Homo sapiens: one gene and its partner. The protein of the gene in region 1 purifies or fractionates together with the protein of each later gene. This does not show direct contact. Each region holds a gene or a part of one and is shown in the gene's direction. Other genes may lie near its edges.

The links.
Region 2: the proteins of ITK (region 1) and DYNC1I2 purify together in Homo sapiens (affinity purification with mass spectrometry; 2 studies listed by BioGRID and IntAct, with this or other methods). This does not show direct contact.

What each region holds. Positions count from the first base shown.
Region 1 is NC_000005.10:157,246,760-157,254,061, forward strand, and holds part of ITK (tyrosine-protein kinase ITK/TSK), read left to right. Parts: intron 1-2,090; coding exon 2,091-2,248; intron 2,249-5,847; coding exon 5,848-5,919; 3' UTR 5,920-7,302. UniProt on the Homo sapiens protein: Tyrosine kinase that plays an essential role in regulation of the adaptive immune response. Regulates the development, function and differentiation of conventional T-cells and nonconventional NKT-cells.
Region 2 is NC_000002.12:171,746,167-171,750,658, forward strand, and holds the end of DYNC1I2 (cytoplasmic dynein 1 intermediate chain 2), read left to right. Parts: intron 1-1,609; coding exon 1,610-1,723; 3' UTR 1,724-3,992; downstream 3,993-4,492. UniProt on the Homo sapiens protein: Acts as one of several non-catalytic accessory components of the cytoplasmic dynein 1 complex that are thought to be involved in linking dynein to cargos and to adapter proteins that regulate dynein function.

The sequences.
Region 1 (7,302 bases):
TGTCCCTGACAGAGGGACCAGCAAGTGCAAAAACTTGGTGCATCCAAAGAACAAGGGGTACTGACTTATTGGGAGAACAACAGGCAATGAAGCTGGTAGGCCATCATAAGGAATTAGAATTTCTAAAAAGTGCAAATGGCCATGAAGGGATGAATGATGTTGGTATTGCAGGATGTGCCAAATGTTCTTGCTGGATTTGCCATGTCACCTGAAGTCATAGTTTGTGCATACTAAAGTGTGCAAAAAAATATACCAGACAACCTCTTTGATTTGGATTACAAGAATTATACTGTGGACAGAAACTACTTGAAGATTGATTTTTGCCATTCGGTATGAAGGAAGGGTTTGACAAGGGCTTACTAGTAGTAGAAACCAGGGGGGAGTTTGGCTAGGTAAATCTTTTAGGAGAAGAATGAGTGTTAAAAATCTTCTGCAGCATTTTAGTCTATCCATCTCTAGGAGCCAAGTGGTTTGTTCATTATGAGTCCTACCTATTTCTTAAAACAGTACCCTATTAACCAACCCTTGCAGCTACTTTGTTAACCAGGTTTAAGTTACAGAATGGACTTGAAAGAAATTGTACTAACAGCATTTTTGGATGACTCCCCTCTCCCCAGTGTGTATAACTAGGAAGGTTGGGGCTGATGTGCAGTCATCTCACTATGGGTGATGAAACTGATCACACTGCACCAAGCAAGCAAGGGCCCCACAATGAGACATTTGGAGCAATGGCCACTTTAGCACATTCACCTTCTGACTCTGAATGGGGTTTATTCAGCCAAAGGGTGTCAGCCTGGGAATTTCCTGGGGCATATTACCATTACAGGGTTGGGCTGAAATTAGTCCCTGTCTAGGATATATTATCTGAAGAGAGTCCAGAAATGAGGTTGATGGATGGATGCAGAATTGAGAGATCAATGGAAAAAAGTGTGAAAAAACTGGGGGTACCAGCCTAAGCAACAGAAACCTGGATGAGCTGAAAACTCCATGCCTGCATCAGCCCATTGGACTTTGTCCTACGTTTTAAGTTTCTTTGCCCTAATTAGCAGTGTGCTATTCAGAACAAGTCAACCTCTTTGTACTTTGCTCAATTTTTTTATCTATACATTTCTCATCTGTGTATTAAAGCAATCATTCTGAAACCATGTTTCAGCATCGGCACATTTTCAAAAAAATTTTCACTAAAAATTATGGTGTCTTGGGGTGATAAGCATTCTTATTTAGGGTCAGGTTCTGAATTTCCAACTCCTGAGGCACCTCTGAGTAACATCTAGAGATTCTGATCCACTGGGTTTGGGCTAGGGCCCAGGAATCTGCCATTTGAACAAGACTCTGAGATGATTTTTATTCAGGTGTTTTGGGGATCATGCTTTGGGAATGTCTACTCTAAGATTCTCTGGAACAACCTTTGAAAAGCTCTGAATTAGCTGATTTGCAAGCAGCCTTCTTGCTCTGACAACCTGTGAATATATCAGCACATGATAAAGACAAAGCTAGGTGTCACATTTCTACCAAGGGCAGAAGAGGAAAAGAAAGGGATTAAATCAGAGGTCAAAAATAGACAAGCAAAAGATGTGTTTTGCTTGGTCTACATGGCATTTTTTAAATTCAAGAAGTTCAACTCTTAATTTTTGACGTCTTTTTTAAAAAAATCAGAAAATGTGCCAATTCTGATCCCTCATTTTCATGTGCCATACTTTGGTTGGAGTCAAATCATAGCTGTCTCCTTAAGACAGAACTGTTTATCTCATTTTCCACAATCCTCCCCAATCCCAATAGTGTCACACCTCCTGCACTCCATTCATTTACATCCTGCATCTTGGCATTTGAGTCTACAACTCTTAGTTGTAGCATTTGAGTTTGGTACAACAAAGGGTCCATCTTGAAAATCCTTCTCCACTACAAAGGTTGGGAAATTTCAGTTCTTTAAAAATAGGACAGGCCTAATAAGCCTCAGGTAGACTTGATGCACTTCTGGAGGTAGCACATGAATCCTAATGCAAGGAGTCTGTAATTTCTAGAGGCAGGTTGGTTTGTTTGCTGTCTGTGGGCTTTGTCATTCACTGTGCTGTGCTCACCATTTCTTGTAGGTGTGCTGATGTGGGAAGTTTTCAGTGAAGGCAAAATCCCGTATGAAAACCGAAGCAACTCAGAGGTGGTGGAAGACATCAGTACCGGATTTCGGTTGTACAAGCCCCGGCTGGCCTCCACACACGTCTACCAGATTATGAATCACTGCTGGAAAGAGGTCAGTGGAGGAAGTGCTTCCCCATGCATTGTCGTATACAATTTGAGGACCTCCCTCCTTCCCTAGAGAAAGGAACCCTCTCAGAAGGATGAGGCAGGAGGGATAACTAATATAGATTAGCAACAACATGACTTTGAGGATCTGTTAACGGGATAGATCCCCCATCCCTAAAGGAGCTGAAGGCGACCTTAAATATTATTTGGTTTGCTACATAATGTCACAAGCTATAAGCATAGCTTCAGAGAGGAGGATGGGGTGTGGCCTATGCCAGCTTCCTTCTCGATTTTCTGAGAAGAGAAAAAAAGTCTGTAACATCATAAAACCATTAAAAGCACAGGAAGTTAGTTCTATAACTTGGGGAACAAAGTTCACTTGCACTATGAAAATATTAAAATGGCTTAATTTGAGTTCATTTTATTCATTCTGCATTTAAAATGGGGAGCCAATTCCTCTGTACCCGCCCAGGTGGCTCATTTACCCCAACCTTGGATTGCAGGCCATGGCTTGAGCCCCATCACTATGAGTCTTAGTCTTTGCTGTCTTTGCTGAGTTAGAAAATCATACATTTCAGCCAAAGTGGAAAGTTGCTGAAACAGAGAATTAATAAAAATTCTGATCATTGTACGACAACAAGGTGGAATACAAAAAATTTGGAACACTAGGATTTTGTCTCAGCTTTACCATTTATTTGCCATTAATCTTTGACAATTCTCTGAACTTCCTTTTTCTTACTGTTAAGAGAATTAAATAATGCTTGGTCTGTGAGTTCATAGAGCTTTTATAATCAGAAACAAAGAAACAATAGAGACATAAAGGAGGGCATAAAACAAATCTTATCCACTTCATAAGGATTAGCTACAATAATAATAATGATGGCTGACATTCAGTTGGCACTTTTTCCCTCTTTTAACCATCATTTATTGATTTTTTTAAATTAATAGTCTTTATTTTTTAACAAAGAGTACAGAGTTCTCATATGCCCACCTCACCTGAACAGTTTCCCTGTTCACTAACATTTGGCATGAGTGTGATACATTTGTTACAATTAGTGAACCTCTATTCATACATTAACTAAAGTTCATAGTTTACATTAAGGTTCAGTCTTTGTGCTGTAGAGTTCTGTAGGTTTTCACAAATTCATGTATCCATCATTATAGTATCAGACAGAATAGTTTTACTGCACTAAAAATCTCCTGTGCTTCACCCATTTATCCCTCTCCTCATCCCCAAACCACTGGCAACTACTGATCTTTTCACTGTCTTCATAGTTTTGCCTTTCTCAGAATGCCATATATTGGCATCATACAGCATGTAGGCTTTTCGGACTGGTTTCTTTCATTTAGTAATATGCTTTAAGGTCCCTCCATGTCTTTTCGTGGCTTAATAGCTCATTTCTTTTTGTTGCCAAATAATATTCCATTGTATGGATATATCATAGTTTATTTATTTACCTACCAAAGGAAATCTTGGTTGTTTTCAGTTTTTGTGTTTGTTTGTTTGGGTTTGTGGGGTTTTGTTTTTTTTTTTGAGATGGGGTCTTACTCTGTTACCCAGGCTGGAGTGCAGTGGTGCAATCTCAGCTCACTGCAACCTCTGCCTCCCAGTCTCAAGCGATCCTCCTACCTCAGCCTCCCAAGTAGCTGGGACCACAGACATGTGCCACTAGGCCCAGCTAATTTTTTGTATTTTTGGTAGAAACAGGGTTTTGCCATGCTGCCCAGGTGAGTTCAGGCAATCAATCCACCTCAGGCCTCCCGTAGTGCTGGGATTATAAGTGTGAGTGCTCAGGCAGACTGGTTTCCTTCACTTAGTAATATGCCTTTAAGGTCCCTCCATGTCTTTTTGGCTTGATAGCTCATTTCTTTTTATTGCTAAATAATATTCCATTGTATGGATATGCCACAGTTTGTTTATCTATTTACCTGCCAAAGGAAATCTTGCTTGCTTTCAGTTTTAAACAATTATGAATACAGCTGCTATAAATGTTTATGTGCAGATTTTTGTATATAAATTTTCAACTCAATTGGGTAAATGCCTAAGAGTATGCTTGCTGAATCATATGGTAAGACTATGTTTAACTTTTTAAGAAACTGCCAGAATGTCTTCCAAAGTAGCTGTATTATTTTACATTCCCACCAGCAATGAGAGTTCCTTATTAGCATTCATTGTTTTGGATTTCAGTGGTTCTAATAGATGTGTAGTCATATTACATTGTTGTTTTAACTTGCATTTTCCTAATGACATATGATGTTAAGAACATTTTCATATGCTTATTTGCCACCTGTATATCTTCTTGGTAATATCTATTCAGATCTTTTGCCCATTTCTCAATCAGGTTGTTTGTTTACTTATTGTTGAGTTTTAAGAGTTCTTTGTATATTTTGGATACAAGTCCTTTATCAGATATGTGTTTTGCAAAATTTTCTCCTAGTCTGTGGCATGTCTTCTCATTCTCTTGACAGTGTCTTTCACAGAGAAGACTTTTCAAATATTTTAACAAAGCTCAACATCAACTTATTTATTCATGAATTGTGCTTTTGATTTACATCTAAAAACTCATTGCCAAGCCCAATGTCACCCAAATTTTCTCCTATGTTACTTTTTATTTTATGGAAGTTTTATAATTTTGCATTTTACATTTAGGTCTATGATCCACTTTGAGTTAATTTTCCTGAAAGGTGTCAGGTCTGTGACTAGAGTCATTGTTTTACATATGGATGTCCAATTATTACAGCCCTGTTTGTTGAAAAGACTATACCCTTTCTCCTCTGTTCCTTTGTTAAATGTTAGTTTACTATATTTATATGGATCTATATCTGGGCTGATCCATTAATCTGTTTGTTTATTCTTTCACTAGCACCATCCTCTCCCATTACTGTAGCTTTAGAGTAAGTCCTAAAGTCAGGTAGGGTCAGTCTTCTAGCTTTGTTGTTCTTCTTCATTATTGTATTGGCTCTCTGGGTCTTTTGCCTCTCCGTATAAATGTTACAGTCAGTTTGTCAATATCTAAAAAAAATAACTTGCTGAATTTTTATTAGGATTATATTGAATCTATAAGTCAAGTTGGGAAGAACTAATATTTTAACACTATAGTGTCTTCCTGTCCATGAACATGGAATATCTGTCCATTTATTTAGATCTTCTTTGCTTTCTTTTATTAGAATTTTTAATTTTTTCTCATTTAGATCATGTAGATATTTTCTGAGATTTATACCCAGATATTTCATTTTTTGGTGTTCTTTAGCATTAATTTCTTGATATATTTTTATATGTGATTTATTGAATTCTCAAAACAATTTCATGAGGTAGATACTATTATTATCTCCATTTTACAAATGACAAAACTGAGGTTCAAAGAGGTTAAATAACCTGCTGAATGTCACACAGCTAATTAGTGGTAAAACTGAGATTAAACACTAGTCCCTTGGATTCCAGAATACCTGCTGTTAACAACTAGGACAATGTATATGGAATACAGTCAACATGGAAGCACATACAAAAATCCACAGGGGATGCTGCTATTAAATTCTGGTTTGTTTTGGATTTACCTATGACGCATAAGTACAAGGAACTTACAGAGTTCTTTTTTCCCTCTCCAGAGACCAGAAGATCGGCCAGCCTTCTCCAGACTGCTGCGTCAACTGGCTGAAATTGCAGAATCAGGACTTTAGTAGAGACTGAGTACCAGGCCACGGGCTGCAGATCCTGAATGGAGGAAGGATATGTCCTCATTCCATAGAGCATTAGAAGCTGCCACCAGCCCAGGACCCTCCAGAGGCAGCCTGGCCTGTGGCATCAGTCCCTGAGTCACCATGGAAGCAGCATCCTGACCACAGCTGGCAGTCAAGCCACAGCTGGAGGGTCAGCCACCAAGCTGGGAGCTGAGCCAGAACAGGAGTGATGTCTCTGCCCTTCCTCTAGCCTCTTGTCACATGTGGTGCACAAACCTCAACCTGACAGCTTTCAGACAGCATTCTTGCACTTCTTAGCAACAGAGAGAGACATGAGTAAGACCCAGATTGCTATTTTTATTGTTATTTTTAACATGAATCTAAAGTTTATGGTTCCAGGGACTTTTTATTTGACCCAACAACACAGTATCCCAGGATATGGAGGCAAGGGGAACAAAGAGCATGAGTCTTTTTCCAAGAAAACTGGTGAGTTAAGTAAGATTAGAGTGAGTGTGCTCTGTTGCTGTGATGCTGTCAGCCACAGCTTCCTGCCGTAGAGAATGATAGAGCAGCTGCTCACACAGGAGGCCGGATATTCTGAGAAGCAGCTTTATGAGGTTTTACAGAGTATGCTGCTACCTCTCTCCTTGAAGGGAGCATGGCGAGACCCATTGGATGGATTGGGGTGAACAGTTCAGGTCCCATGCTTGGAGCATTGGGTATCTGATGTCTGCACCAGAACAAGAGAACCTCTGACGGTGGAGAACCATGTGGTGCAAGAAGAGATCTTAGGTCTCTTCTTTTATACCAAGCTCATCTTTTATACCAAGCTGTGCAGGTGACTATGCCTCCTCTTCTGCACAGAATGCTTCCACCAGCATCCTGAGAAGAAATGATTACTTCTGAAAAACATCCTTTTTTCCAGCCTCTGGGAATCAGCCCCCCCTCTCTGCACTATCCGATCCTCATCAACAGAGGGCAGCATTGTGTTGGTCAATGTTCCCTTGGCGAGCAATTGAAACTTGTTTAGGCCCTAGGGTTGAGCAATTTTAAGGTTGAGACTCCAAGTCTCCTAAAATTCTAGGAGAGAAATAAAGAGTCTGTTTTTGCTCAAACCATCAGGATGGAAACAGTCAGGCACTGACTGGGGTGCTTCCAAGAGGCATGAGAGTGCCTACTCTGGCTTGAGCACTTCTATATGCAAGGTGAATATGTACTGAGCTAGGAGACTTCCCTGCAAAATCTCTGTTCACCCTGGGTTCACATCCCCATGAGGTAATATTATTATTCCCATTTTACAAATAATGTAACTGAGGCTTTAAAAAGCCAAGACATCTGCCCAAAGTGATGGAACTAGAAAGTCTAGAGCTGGTATTCTAGCCC
Region 2 (4,492 bases), on another chromosome or scaffold:
TGTTTCTTGAAGCATGCATTGCTGGAAATTAGAAATTCTTTGGGGAGAAGTTTGGAGTTATAGGTGGACTTTGGGGTTTTATTGATATTGAAATAAGATTTATTTTTCTGTATTCATTAATTTGGGCCAGGTAGTAGAAACCAAAAGTAGTATCTTTTGAGAACCATCTGTGACTTTATGCAATGTGCATCTTGACTCTTAAGCCTTGATGCAAAGCCACAGTAATGGAATCCAATAGGATGAGCTGCAGCTCTCTCATCTTTGCTGCTCTGATTGGCTGAACACAAAGCCCAGGATGGATTTCCTCTTTTTTAACCCTGGCTAGGGGTTAAAAAAGTGACCTTAGTCACTTTCCTTTGCTATGCCTCATGATTTCTCTCCTCTCTGGATATCCCATGGCCTCTAGCAATTGGATCTGGTGGGAGGTAGATTTAATCATTTACAGCAGCCAATTAAACTATCTGCACAAATGGAAATGTTCTGTACCTGCACTAATATGGTAGCTTCTAGCCACATATGGCTATTGAACACTCTAAGTGTTGCTACTACAACTGCGTAACTGAATTTTTAATTTTAATTAATTTTAATATACACAGTCACATGTGGCCAGTAGCTACCCTACTGGATAGTGTAGATTTATAAACAGGCACAGCCATTTGCCACAGTGAGTGGTTTGTGCCCTAACATGACAGTGTCAGACTCCTATGATATTATAATGGCAGTTATCAAAAATATTTGTTATTGGGGCCGGGCGCAGTGGCTCACACCTGTAATCCCAGCACTTTGGGAGGATGAGGCGGGTGGATCACCTGAGGTCAGGAGTTCGAGACCAGCCTGGCCAACATGGCAAAACCCCATCTCTACTGAAAATACAAAAATTAGCCAGGCATGGTGGCACATACCTGTAATCCCAGCTACTGGGGAGGCTGAGGCAGGAGAATCACTTGAACCTGGGAGGCAGAGGTTACAGTGAGCCAAGATAGTGCCACTGCACTCCAGCCTGGGCAACAGAGTGGGACTGTCTCAAAAAAAAAAAAAAATTATATATATATATATATATATATATGTTATTGGGCTGCCTCTGAAGTAAAGCATCACAAGGCTCTTTTGCCACCAGTGCAGCACTAAAGTGGTAAATAGTAGCACAGCTTTTGATGAAGGAGTTAAGGTATCAAGAAAGATTACCTTATGTTCCAAAGAAAAATACTTACAAGAAACGAGCCCCCTTATGAACCATGCTTCAAACACTGTTTCTTACTAGGAATTTTGCAAGAATACAGTAAAAAAAAAATTTTAAGGAATTCCTCTCCAGCAAAATCCATGAGATGGTGCATAGGAGTTATATTTACAAAGCATCATTGTTATTCTCTCTTGCATTGGTGGTGATAATAGCCAAGTCATTTCTGAGGCTGTCACAACACACTTCACAAACACCGTCTTTTGTTTTGAAATGTTGTAAATCATTGTTATAGTCCCCGTAATTATGGAAAGGCCATTCAGGTCAATTATTACTTTTTAACAGAAAAATTATTTGAAAACAAACTGAATAATAGTGGGTAAAATGATCTTTTATTTCATTGTATATAAAACATTGTCTTTCTTTTAACAGCAGATTGCTGTTCCCCGCAATGATGAATGGGCACGGTTTGGCCGAACACTTGCAGAAATTAATGCAAACCGAGCTGATGCAGAGGAGGAAGCAGCTACCCGAATACCTGCTTAGTTCCTGAAAAGGGGAGTGTAACTAGTGGATTTGGGAAAGGTTCTTAAGTAGATCCTGAGACTATTTGCATGCTTCTGTCTAAATGATAATTAAAAGGAAATTTCATGGATTAAACCATGGGTTTAATGCAGCAAGGAAACTTACAATGTCCCTTTATATATAACATGCATCTTGTTTTGGATTTGTGTCATTTTTTAATATAGCTGATTGACTTCACAGAAAGCAGCTTTTTTGAATTCTAATACATAGGTGTATATTTGGTATTAGTTATTTTGAGTTCTTTTCAACTTATAACACTGTATACAGTTATTTCTAAAGCACAGATGAAATAAGTTCTGCATATTTTTAAATAATCACAGTTCCCTGTTATACAGATAATGTTCTCACTACCCATAATATGTAGGAACATTGTTTCTCCTTAGCCGTAGTATGCATACACCTATCCATGTTCATTCTGACATCCTTTGTTGTCTTTATAATTCATGTGGTAGTTACCTATAAATAAAAACAAATATGCGTTAACTTTTCAAATTTTCATTTTTACTCCTTACAACTTGAATTTTTCCATCTTTTATAAAATATATTTTTTCCATATCTTTCTTTAAGCTCCTGCTGTGAGCAGCCATCTCAAATCCTATAGAGCTGTGTACCCTAAATATACCATGTGGTATATACTATAGATCTCCCAGTGCATTATGAATTGATGTCTAGATAATCTGTTGGTGAAAAAATTTCCCCTAGGTTAACTTTTGCTTTACTACTTTATATTCTTTCCATCTAAGACATATTTCCTTTAAAGGATAAATAGAAAGCTGCCTATAATTTTCACTGATTAAGAACTATGTATGTGACCTCACTGAGAGTAAAATCTTTGAGAGAAATTGATTTCATGATTTCAGTAGCCATAAAGGCAAAGTGCTCAAATGGACCCATACTTTGGCATTAAAATCTACATCTTGAGATCTGTTGCCACAGCATTGTCTACAAGTCCGAAAGGTAGGTGACAAATATCTAAGAATCAGTATTGAAATCAGTGAATTTCAGGAATAGAGGAAAGGACTATGATCAGATCTTGATTTTATCTACTTTAAATTGTCTATTTATTTGATCCCAACCTTTTGTACTTCTGAAGTGTAACTGTCTTTTATTCAACAGAACATGAACTAGGAAGAGAGATTAGAAAACAGAATGTGAACATTTTTCTTTTAATAATTGTAACAAAGATTTGTTGGGAGAGAAATTTCCAAATAATGAGTAGTGTATAGTGTAAGGAATAATTGACCTGGAATTATTGGCCCCAAACTCTGATTCTTGCTGAAGCATCTATGAGAAGTGTGATTTTAGCCAAGTCTGTGCCGCATTCTTTATATGTAGGAATTAAGTTTTGATTTAATGATTTCTGAATTTTCTTTCAGCTCTACTCAATTAAGGGGTATCAGTATGTGAAATGGAATATAGAAAAGTAGGCAATTCTTTACTTTTCTATATTCAGTTTCATAAATTAATACCCCATAATTGCCCATTATATACCAAAGACAATATCTCAAGTTATCTCATTGTAGCAGTGTCTGTGAGTCAAAACTTCAATTTTAGTAGAGTCACACTTTCTTTATATAGAAAAATTCATGTACTCACTACTCATGTAGTTACTGTATCTTTACCTTCAGTTTGTAAAAATGACTAAAAGTAGGGAAAACAAGTGTTAAAACATAATGGATAAGAAAAGGTTGGAAATCATATGGCAAATCACATGTTCCTCAGCCTCAAGGTGTGTTTAGTTGTGAAAGAAAGAATAAAATTGTTTAAATATTTCACTTTTTGGGAATGACTTCTCCCCTACTCCCCCAGAAAATGCGATGTATACCTTTGCCCATTCAACTTTAGTCCATATTTTTAGGAACACACAAATTTACTTTAAGGAATTACCTTTAAAGTTGACTATATAATAGCAAAAGAGAAAGTATTGAGACTGTCAGTGTTGATAAAGCTTCTAGCAAGATTAGGTTGACTAGAAGTGCATCACAGTTCTTTATACTTTTAGAACTAAAAGCCTTATAATTTTGAAAAATATCCAGTTACAGAAATTGTACCTTATCAGTTATACTTTTTTTCTGAGTAAGAAAACAAGCTATAGCTTTCTGGTTAATTTCTTATTTTTCGTTGTTTGGTTTTTGTCTTTTTGAGTGGAACGTTAAAGTTTATTACCTTCATGTTAAGGAATATCCAGCTTCACAGACAATTAACTTGCAATAAATCTCTGAAATAATCATTTTTTGGTATTATTTAAACCAAATATGCATTGGTAGAAGCTTTCTTCCTGTTTACAGATCCAGCTCCCTATAAAGTTTAGAAAATCTCTTTGTATAAAATGTTGTTACAATAATGCTGAAATACTGCATCTCAAAGGAATGGATGACTTAAAATTTAGTGGGAGGAACTATAGGAAAGTCGTTTTAGGAATGATTGGTCCTAGTCTTTCAGTGTTGTTAAAATGTTTTAGTCTGTTCTGTACTAGTGTGGATAGACTAATATCCACCCCTTGAACCATACAGAAAGACTTGAATGGATGAGTGAAAATCTGCTGTGAAGCATATCATACTATCTTTGCTTTATATTGAGTAGTGCATTACTTTTAAGTCAGAAAGCCAGTAGGTTTTTTTGTTTGTTTGTTTTTCCCTAAAGCGCTGCCATAAATTTCAGTGGTCACCTGCCACTCACTGGGCGGTGTATTTTTAAATGTCTTTTCCACAACCCCAGTATTTCAACATT